2 separate regions of the Homo sapiens genome follow, and region 1 is linked to region 2. The links come from fine-mapping of genetic effects on gene expression. Tissue or cell type: whole blood. Region 2 holds a variant in brackets; the other region holds the start of a gene. All regions are shown on one strand. Distances are from middle to middle.

Region 1 (5,226 bases), 130 kb after region 2:
TACATGGGGATGGGGGGGCAGCACTTGAATTTTAGAAACAAAAATGAAGATGAGTAGAAATGCAATTTTTTAGGTAGAAAGATATTTCTGTCCACTGGCCTCTATTTTCTCAGAAAAGGTGTGAGCGGGTTGAGGTTTGGATGAAGAAGGCTTGAGGAGGATGGAAAATGTTTAGAATCAAAAGTCAATTAGAAAGGGCTAAAAGGATTTCCAAGTAGAAGTGACTGTGGCATTAAGCTAAAATGGCATAGTTTATAGTGGACTGCTTCCAGAGCAGAGGACACGGGGTTTAGTCCATTGCCACTGAGTTGGGTCAAGCCCTTAGACAGCTGTCTTCTGACCTGACTTTCAAACTGAAACCTACCCTTCTGTGATTTATCCAGGCTTCTGTGATTTACCTACCCTCTGCTTGCAAGACAATCCAAGGTCCTCAGCATGACACACAGGCCTTTCCCTAACTGGCCCCCATTTGTGTCTCCAGCATCAGTTTTTGCCTTCTGCCATATTGAACTTAACTGTAGTTCCTCTAGAGCCTCAGTCCCTTTCAGTGCTGCTGGGCCTTAACCAAAGTATTCTCCTGAAATATTTTTCCCTTTAATGTCTGGAAAATAACATGTATTTTTTTTTTAAAGGCTGCCTCCTCTGAGAAGCCTTCCAGGGTCACCTTAGGTAAAACTGATTGTCAGTCTCTCTTTTTGCCAGCCTTACCTATGCCCTGTATGTGCTACTGACATCACAAGTCACTTCATATTTCATCTATTTTAAAATGCACTTTTATTCACATTTTTTAAAAATCCCTGAAATCAGCCAGATGTGGTGGTACAGGTTTGTAGTTGCAGCTACTGAGGAGGCTGAGGCAGGAGGATCACTTGAGCCCAGGGCTCGAGGCTGTAGTGTTATGATCGCACCTGTGAATGGCTACCACACTGCAGCCTTGGCAACACAGGCAGACCTTGTCTCAAAAAAAAAAAAAAAAAAATCCCTTAAATTAGCATGTAACTTATAATCAATGGTGTATCATAGTTCAATGACAGGATTAAAAAAAATTTTGGTGATACCAAAAAAAAGTACATCTTACATTGGAGAGCATTTGGTGAAATGCAGCTTCATTTTCTAACTTTCTAAAGTGAGTGTAGGAGTGCTTCTCATCTTGCCTCCCACCCCACCGCCCCCGCCACCTTTGGCAGTGTCTGGAGACATTTTTGGCTGTATCAACTTGCGGCGAGGAATATGCTGCTGGCATCTAACAGGTAGAGGCGAGAGATGCTGCTAAACATCCTCTAATACACAGGACAACCCCCGACAACAAAGAATTAGCCAGGTCAAAATGTGAATAGTACAGAGATTGAGAAACCCCTACGTAGAGAAACAATACCTATTTGGGTATATAATAGGCTTTATTATGTTTGATTTTAAATAAATCTTTTACAGTGTATAGTGCAACTTAATGTATAGCAACTTTTTCCAAACCTTGGCTTGTACAGAATAGCAACTCTTGAGACATATTCTAAGCTCTCCTCATCACCCCTCCCCAACTCCTTCTGCTAGATGCCCCAGGGAAATAAAATACAGCAATGCTCCTGGTCAAAATCTGAAAGCCAGAATGTCTCAGAGAGATTCGTGACCTTAAACCAATTAGGTTAGTTAATGGCAAGTCCAGGACTGAAACCCAGACCCCCAGATTTCCGCAATCTCACTCAGCCTGGGAGACAGCTGCTCCCTTCCCGGGCTAAATTGGCTAACACAGTTTGGTACCTTAAGAGGAAATGTGCCCTACCTATATGAGCTGGGTGACTTAGCAAGAGTTTAGCATTTAGTATTCACGCTTTAACACCCGGGACCCACCCAGCTCTCACCCCACTTTATGAGAATGTAGGTTGACTCTGTAAGACCCCTTAGCTCTGTGGGGAATTGGATTTATGCAAAAAATAATAGTGATTCATGAATGTGAAGGAACTTTAAATAAATGTAGATGATTTCATCATACAAAAGGCAGAAGGGACTTAGTAAGTGTATTTAAGGCTCTGGAGGAAGCGTTATTAATTTGGAAAGTGGGTGGGGGGAGCTGTCCTCTATCCCTACAAGCTGCACGTGTGGAAAGGGCCTTTCTAGCGCAGGAAGCTGATTTATGTGAGAGAGGAAGGAGTTCCAGGGGGAGGTTTTGGCAAGGCAGTCCCCACATCTCGGTTGTGCCAGCCAGGCGGGCCTCAGGTGGGTCTGGGGCTCCCTGCCCCTCCTGCTGAGTCCCCAGAGTGTCCCCCGCCCCCTTCCTTCTCCCACTGGGGCTGAATCACAGTGGGCAGCAGTGTTTGGGATCCTGCGATCCACCCATCGCCATCCCAGCAGCCCCACCCTTGGAGGATGGGAGGTTACCCTGCACGCCAGAGGGGATGGCGGGGGCCAGACTCACCTTCAGGTGAATGGGAAAGGACCGCTCCTGCTGGAGGGGCCCCAGCAGCGTCTGCTCCACGCTGACCAGCTCCGAAGTCGAGTCCACCACGCGGGCCAGCGCGCTGCGCATCGCCATCTGGGCCAGGGTGCAGGGCCCGCGGTCCCGGGGGAAGGGCAGCAACTCGGCGCCCCCCTCAGCGCCTCGCACTACCTCCTCCTCTGGGGAGTTCGCCCGCGCCGCGGTCCGCCGACTCCTGGTCCCCACGCCCCCGCCCCGCTCCTCGCGCCCGGGCCCCGGCCGGGCCCGCGGCGGGCCTGAGCGACGGGCTGGAGCGGTGGACACGTGGTCTGGGTCCCGCGGGTTCCCGGGGGCGACTGGACCGTCCCCCCAGCCCCACTCCTGCTGCAGCAGCTGCAAGGTCTGCAGAGCCACCATTTGGTGGCTGATGGAGGCCACTAAGGGCGCAGGGCTGGCCATCGCCTCCGCTGGCGGCCCGGCGCGCTCCGCGTGCAGGTGGAGCAGCAGCGAGGGAGGCGGGGGCGTTGGGGTCGCCAAGGTCACATTTTCTAACCCGCGGCTCCTCGGCCTCTGGGTCTCACAGCGTGTGTGGTCGGCCCCGCCCCCGGCTCTGAATCGGTGACCCGTGCTGGCCTCTGCCTTCGCCTGAAGTCCGAATCAGGCGTGTTCTGACCCAAAGCTGCCTGAAGCGCTGCTCGGTGTGCACTTGAAAATCAGCGAAATGCTGAGCGTTGCTTCTTCCCTCTCTCCAGGGCTTTGATGAGAAAACGTGCTGCTTTGTGCGGGCGCATCCATCGGCGGGGATACCCCGCCCCCACCTCCTTCGAAGGATGCCTGCCAATGACCACTGAGGTCTGGGAGGTGGGGGTGCAAAAGACCCACTCTAGGGCAAAAGTACGAAGGGCTCTAGAAAAACTTGCAAAAGGAAGACTGTGCCTTTCCCAACCCGAGGGGAATTTTCAGAAACTTGTTGAAGCAGCCTTCAAGGCCTTGCATCCCCCAAACAAAAGAAGGAGGAGTTGTGTATCTGGAAGTTCTGCTCTTCTCTGCTTTGCTGGGTGCCACTTGAGCACCGAGAGCCTGGTGGCTGAACTAGCATCAGCAAGCCTCAAGGCCCAGGCCTGGCACTGCCCAGAAAAGCCTAAATGTTTTTTTGTGACACTCCCAAAAGACTTAGGCAGCAAGGTTGAAGTTAATCCTTTTATGAGCCATGAACTTAGGGACAGCTGTACAAATAGTTGCTGTTTTTAATTAAACCCAACATGGCTACTTCCTTAACTTAGAAAAAAGCGACTAGCAATGTTATGCTTTGATAGATTGGAAACCATGGGTGTGTGATCACACTTAAGAAAATAGAAGATATTTGAGAGGAGTGGTATGGAAAACCAGTCCGGAGCAGCATTGTTCCTGCTTGCTTTCTGCAAGGAAAACCACTAGACAACCCAACAGCCCAGTAAAGCCAGGGCAATGGTGCATGCCCACGACAGACAGGTGGGCCCTGGCAGACCTGAGGATGGAATTGCATTACTCCTTTGGGAGCCAGACTGCACCCTTGGTGCTGTGCAGATCTGGAGAGGCTTTTGAGTGAAAAGGCCACACTGGTTAGTCTGTGAGCACAAAAGGATCATCAGAAGAGATATGGAGAGGGATGTTGGGTCCTTTAAGGTTTCCTTAACCCTGGGATAGTATGACCCCATATAATCCTCCCAACTTGCCAGCAAAGGTTCCTTCTCCTTCCCAGTGCTTTCTTCGCCTATGAAAACGAATCTGAATGCCAAGGTAAAGAAAACCTTTCTTAAACAAAAACGAGTATGTTCACACTAATTATAACTAAGTAAAAATGCACGTCTGTGCATTGACAGAGAGGAAATTACTTTGGAGGGAAGTAAATAGTTTAATGTTGATTAGATTTTTTTGCCATGAAGTTACTTAAGTTCATAATAAAAAATAGAAAGAAAAAAATTTTCTTTTTAAAAAAAGTCTTCAAATGTTGAAATATATTAGGTTCAGCAGAGACTAACCAGCAATAGCAAAAATGAACCCCTAATTTTCACAGAGCATGTCAGATCTCTAGGGCTGCCTCTCTTTCCAGATACACAGGAAATTCAGTTTCATGGGCTAACCCTTCCACTATCAAATGGCTGACTGCAAAACTTTCTTGACAGTTGGAATTGCAGCCAAGAGCAGAATTGAAATCACTAGACACAGGCTGACCTGAGGCCCCACTCTTCTACATACCACACTGAGTCAGAGCCATGAGACCAACTGAACCTCAGGGGGCATGACAGAAGGGTGCCAGAAAACCTTGGGGCCTGAGGGATGGCACATGCTGCTTAAATTGCTGCCTGCTTTTTCTAGTATTCTTAGGAAGCCCTGGATCATCTGGCAACTGAGTGTTTTGTCTGTTTTGGCTGTGGGTCGCACTGTGTTTTGCTATGATCTCAAAATGGCTTGTGTTCCAAAGCTAGAGATATGAGAGCCTAACTCAGGAAAAATTTTCATAGTCTATTTAGATGAGTCAATAGCATAGCAGATCTACCTTTGGTCTAAAACACCTCCGTAGTTACGTTTGCTGGGCTACCAGACGAAGTAACAGATAGCCTACTTCTTACCCACTGTACTCACGATTTGAGGCCATTCTGTAATAAAGGGCACATTCAAAAGGACAAAGTATTAGATATCTGATATGTTTGTTTCACAACATATATTTCACTATTTTATAGAAATCATACCCTCATTTCTCAGTAGATATGCCTTTTCCTCCACACTCTGCCCGTGAAGTCAGATGGGATGAGCCCATCTCACTGCAGAAGAGT
Region 2 (5,226 bases):
GCCAATATCCCAATTCTGCGTTTGTTTTTTTCCTTGAGGTTTAAACAGTATGTTGAATCAACATTCTATCAAGAGCTTTTTTAGTGCTTTTACCAAGAAGTTGTTAGTGAGAGCTGCATTCAGTTCAACTTTCTTTCTCGGTTCCTTTCCCTACCCTGGTTTAGTGTGTTGAAAAATCCTTTTGCATCAGCATTTATGCAGCATATAATTTTTTTACTCTCATCCAACAGGCACATTTGGATTTACTATTTCACTTGAACAGTTGGTGTTTACTGGCAGCAACAAGAACAAAATTTATAGCAGCAAATGGAAGCTGAACTCGCATGCTGGCTTTGCACTGAAGAACTTTGTGTTTGCCATTTCCTAATTGTGAAAACAATATGTCCAAGATTTTGCAGTCATCAGCATTCTGATGTAACGACTTCCATCTGGTCAAAGGAAGAAATTCAGAACCTCTATCTCCTTTTGAATTCTACTTCAGTGCAAAGGTAACTGGCTTAGGAGAATGTTGGAAGACAAGAAATTCAGACAATACATTCTGAAAAGCGACTATAACATCCACTTTTCCAGGGGATAATTTTCCTGAAGAGCAAACAGGGGTAGGGAATTTGTCACGATCTTCTTAATGGAAGCGGCTCTAATTGGAGCAAGATGACAGGATTACTTGGAGGTGAGAGAGGATAAAGAAAGCAGGATGATTTGTGGCGCGTTCCAATCGGAGGTAATAAGAAGTCAGAGATCCACAGAGACCATGCAATTGGAGACCAATACGAAGGCAATGGAGGCCAACAACGTGGTAATAAGAAGTGGTTTAACATCCCATCTCATCCCATCTGGCATTCAGAATTTGGCACTGGTTATTGAAATATGAAGCTCCTGATGGTCCTCACACTCCTACAGTGACCTTCTTCACTCATTAGCCAGGAGTTGAAGCTGAAAGAAATGTAGCATAATATCTCAAATGCTTGCTTTGCATTTTTTATATTCATTGATTCAACAATTATTTACTGAGCACTATATTGCATTTTAGGAATGGCATTAGGTACTGGAGATATGGGCTAACACACATTTCTTGGCTACCCATTATAGATAATTACATGAGAAACACAAAATATGCATAGAAGGACCCTAATTTCGAGTCAAACAACCCAGGAAGAAGACTTCTCTATAGCTATCTTTATACTTTATATTAATCTTTTTCTTTGTATTTTATGTTCATCTTCTTCTTCCTGAAATGAGAAGGGAAGGAAAATAGAATTCTAGAAATAACCTTACAGCTGCCCTTCACTCTATGGAAAAAGTGAGCTCTTGACAGGAAAGGGGTTCTATCCATGATCTTACAATTCCTAAACAGCAACAGCATCATGGACGTATTTGTTCCTGGCGTCATAAGCCTGCATACGGTAGGCATTCAGTTAATAGGTACTGATTGGTCTAACAGAGGAAGCTGGGCTTGATTATAAAATAAACTAGGCTATGAAATCATGCCTCCTAAAAGCTCATTAAAGGCAGCAACACGGGATGGGGACTGTAAGGAAGTTGTCTCCCACCTGCCTCCCTCCTCAGACACACATCATTCCGCAGATGTGAAAACGACCCAGACTCTGCCCGCATGTGGCCTCCCGGACCGGGCAGTAGGGCCTTGCCCCTACCCTCATGAAGACTGTCGGCTGTGTTACAGAACTGCTGCTCTGTCTCTGACTCCCCTCACTCCCATGCTCTGTTGGAAACTCAAGTTGTGAAACCACAAAACACAGAAAGGAAGTGGTCAACTATTGCACATACTCAAGCTATGTAGTCTCAGTTTATTCCATTCTTGCAGGATCATTGTAGGAAGGCATAAGAGTCCTGCTTACTGGTGAGCCACTGAACACAAACTCCCTTCTCACCTCTGCCTTGGATCCCGCCATGCCTGAGGTCTAGGGCTAGAAGCGTTGTTTCATCCACATTAATTCCGGTCTTGGGCAACGTGGCTATTTTCTGACCTGTCTGTCTTCCCACCCTAGTGGTGAATTCTCTTTCTGGGATCTCAACTCCTTCTCCTGTCACCCAGCTTTTTCCGAGCAACCCCAGTCCATCTGGCATATCATTAGAATGTTAAACCTAAAACGGTAAGCCATTCTGTGAATACCTTTAAGTAACAGGATATTAAAATGAGACTTTTCCTGTTTTCTCAGTGCTAGCTGACATCTTTGAGCTGAGAAAAAAAAATATTGTTAAAAATGCTCATCTATTCTCAGGAGATGTCATCTGCTAAGGAGTGACCAAAAAAATGGTCCAATAACCCTGAAACCATCGCTCAAATCTTAGCTACGCAAGGGGAGACTTGTAAATTAATGAGGACGGCAAGGATTTCATGAGACAGAGCTTTCAGGCTGCTAAAATGCTTCCTCCTCCCTTCTCATGTGTTTTCCCCTCATCTTACGCAAATAAGAGGGGGCCTTCAGAGAATTACTTGGAGAGCTGACCTAGGACCCCTAGGCTTTGGGGAACATAGAATGTATTAGTGTCTATTGCTGCTGAAACAAATTAGCACACATTTAACAGCTTAAAAATAGCAAAATTACTACCTCACAGTTCTGTAGGTTAGAAGTCCAGTGGGCGCGGCTGGTGTGTGGGCTTCAAGCCTCACAGGGCTGAAATCAAGGTGTTGGCCAGGCTGTACTCCCTCCTAGAGGCTCTAATGAAGCATCTGTTTCCAGGC[C/T]TCTGCGCCTTGTTGGCGGAATTCAGTTCAATTTGCCTGATGGACTGAGGTCCCTGCTTCCCTGCGGGCTGTCGGCGGGAACTGCCACTGGCTCCTTGCAGCCTCTCTCTGATTCTTGCACAAGGGCACCTACATCTCAGAGCCAGCGAGAGTGTGAGTGTGTGGAATCCTTCTCACGAGGCCTCATCTCTCTGACTTTCGTCGGGAAATGTTCTCTGCTTTTAAAGGATCATGTAATTATTTTGAGCCTACCCGATAATCCAGGATAATCCCCTCATCTAAAAATCTGTTACCTTAACCACATCTGCAAAGTCCCTGTTGCCGTGTAATGTAAGCTATTCACAGGTTCTGGGGATTAGGAAAAGGACATCTTTGGTGGGGGCCTTATTCAGCCTACCACATAGAGATTAGTACCTGAAAAGCCAGCAGGTGAGAAGCTAGACAGAGCAGCCGGTGGCAGCTAAAGGAGAAAGGGGGCGAGAGCTGGAGAAGTCGCACTTCCGCCGATGGCGCAGCAAAGGGGATGTTGCCCTGGAGGACTCAGGGAACGGAACTGGGCTATCAGCCGAGAATGGGGCTCCACTCAAAAGGAGGAACCAACAGGAGACACAAGGAACCCCAGCAGGAAGAAGTCGGAGATGGAGGAGGGGAAGTCATAGCTGGAGGAGACGTGTGTTAGGAAGCTACAATGGCAGCTCCCTAGTGGAGGTGTTTCGGAAAAACTCCGAAGATTCCACTTGAGAAAATCATCGGCCTTCAGACAACGTCTATGCCAGATAATGCTACCAAATCACAACCTTGCCTTTCCTCCCTACTGCTGTTCTGATGTGGGAGGACCCAAAGGCAGCAGAAGAGCCAAAGAAGAGTAGCAGAAAGGTAAGTTTGGCTGTCATGCCCTGGCACACCTTGCTGCTACCCTGCAGCTCCCTGCCACCTGGCCATGCACTGCTTCCCCTCCACACCCTGCTGAGGCAGGTCTGGGCTGGGGACACAGGAAGCTTTGATGTTAGACTGAACTGGACCTTCAAGATCTCAAAACACAAAGTATTTGTTAGTAACTGAAAGGTGGCATAAATGTTAGATCAACCTAGGATTTTATCACCAAATAAGGAAACAAGTTCACTGGGCAGTTCTAAGAAAGAATAGAATTGCTTCCTGCTTGGTCTTTTTTGTTTAATAGACCAGATTCACAAATGCCCCAACCCTTCTCTAGCAATGTGTAGGTTCTGATCACCAAGGGCTATCTCAAGAGAAGGGCCAAACATCTCCATTAACAGGAACTCAAGCCCTTGTTTCATTGAAATGTTTGGTTACAGCTTAATGACCACAGTTGCAAAGCCAGAATATTGAGTTTTTATATGCTATATTATTTACATGGAATAATGCCCTCTTGGTACCATATTGAACATAGTAAATTCTCTGTTAATTGACACTATACAGAAAGAGTACTTTGACTGATCGAGGAAGGCTAATGTTTTTTGATCTCTAATCCTTGGGCTACCTTTTCCGTGATGTCACGGAAAGAGCATTAGACTAGTTATTGTTCTAGAACTGGGACTCTCACTAACTATATACACGTGGGCAGATCATTTTACATTTTTGAGCATTGGTTTCTTCATGTGTAAGGTGGTAACAACAATGTCTCCCCTGCCTTGTTCATAGGATTGTAGGGAGAATCAAATGACATAATGGTCATGAAAATATATTTCTAAGTTGTAATCTGTATATGTAATAAGGTGTTACTAGTAATTGAACATTTATATATATTCTGTAACAGGTTGTAAACTTTTAAAAGAGATCTAGTACACCAGGCTTAATGGACTATTTTTTGAAAGACACATCAAAAACTGTTGACAATAATTGCCTCTAGGTAGAGACATGAGAGTGATGGGAAGGAGGCAGACTTATTTTTCACTCAATTTCCTTTTGTATCTCTTGAATTAATACTATATATACACATGACGCATTTAATTTAAACCAATACAATTCAATAACTATTTGAGAAGTTAAAGAAAAAAGATATATTTATTCTGAATAATAAATTGAAAATAATCTAATCTTTCTGTAAAATGGCTTTTTAGGATCTTTAATACTTTAGCTTTAAGTGAGATGATTTAGTTGATGCAACCAGCACAGAACTTGGCACACAGTGGGTATTCAAAAAGTGGTAGAGCCCTTTGCCTTGAGGCCATCATATGACTATCCACTCCCAGTGAATTTGCTATATACAAGGATATAGTTAATGGGATGCTGGATATTAGAAAGTTTATTGGATTTTACCAGGATGCTGGACACAGATGGTAAGTGGAAAATGCCAGAAAGTTGATGAATCATCTGGTAAACTAGTGGAAAAGGTAAATGGAGCCAGAAAGAGGCCAGAGAGGGCAAGGAAACAGAACAGGTCTGGAGAAAGGCAACTACACTCATTGTATCATGTAACCCACTTTTCAGTTGCTGATGTTTCCAAAATGGTAAGTACATTTTGCAAACTGGAGTTATTCTGATCTTCATGCTATTAAATG

What was found. PIP is the estimated chance that this variant, and not a neighbour inherited with it, causes the effect.
Region 1: it holds the start of DLEU7, and the variant in region 2 is fine-mapped to the expression of DLEU7 in whole blood (TOPMed, PIP above 0.99). The same link has a PIP of 0.9 or more in blood mononuclear cells.

Annotation. Positions count from the first base shown.
Region 1 is chr13:50,840,778-50,846,003 of GRCh38, forward strand. DLEU7 (deleted in lymphocytic leukemia 7) reads right to left here and starts at 2,915. Exons shown (of 2, transcript NM_001306135.2): 1 at 2,411-2,915. The coding sequence starts at 2,869. All of the region lies in intron 4 of DLEU7-AS1 (DLEU7 antisense RNA 1), which reads left to right. RefSeq lists an enhancer at 1,845-2,771.
Region 2 is chr13:50,712,308-50,717,533 of GRCh38, forward strand. It overlaps a transcript of DLEU7 not described here. Among named protein-coding and RNA genes, the nearest start is that of DLEU7-AS1, 93 kb to the right of the region's middle. The variant C/T (reference allele first, on the strand shown) is at 2,705.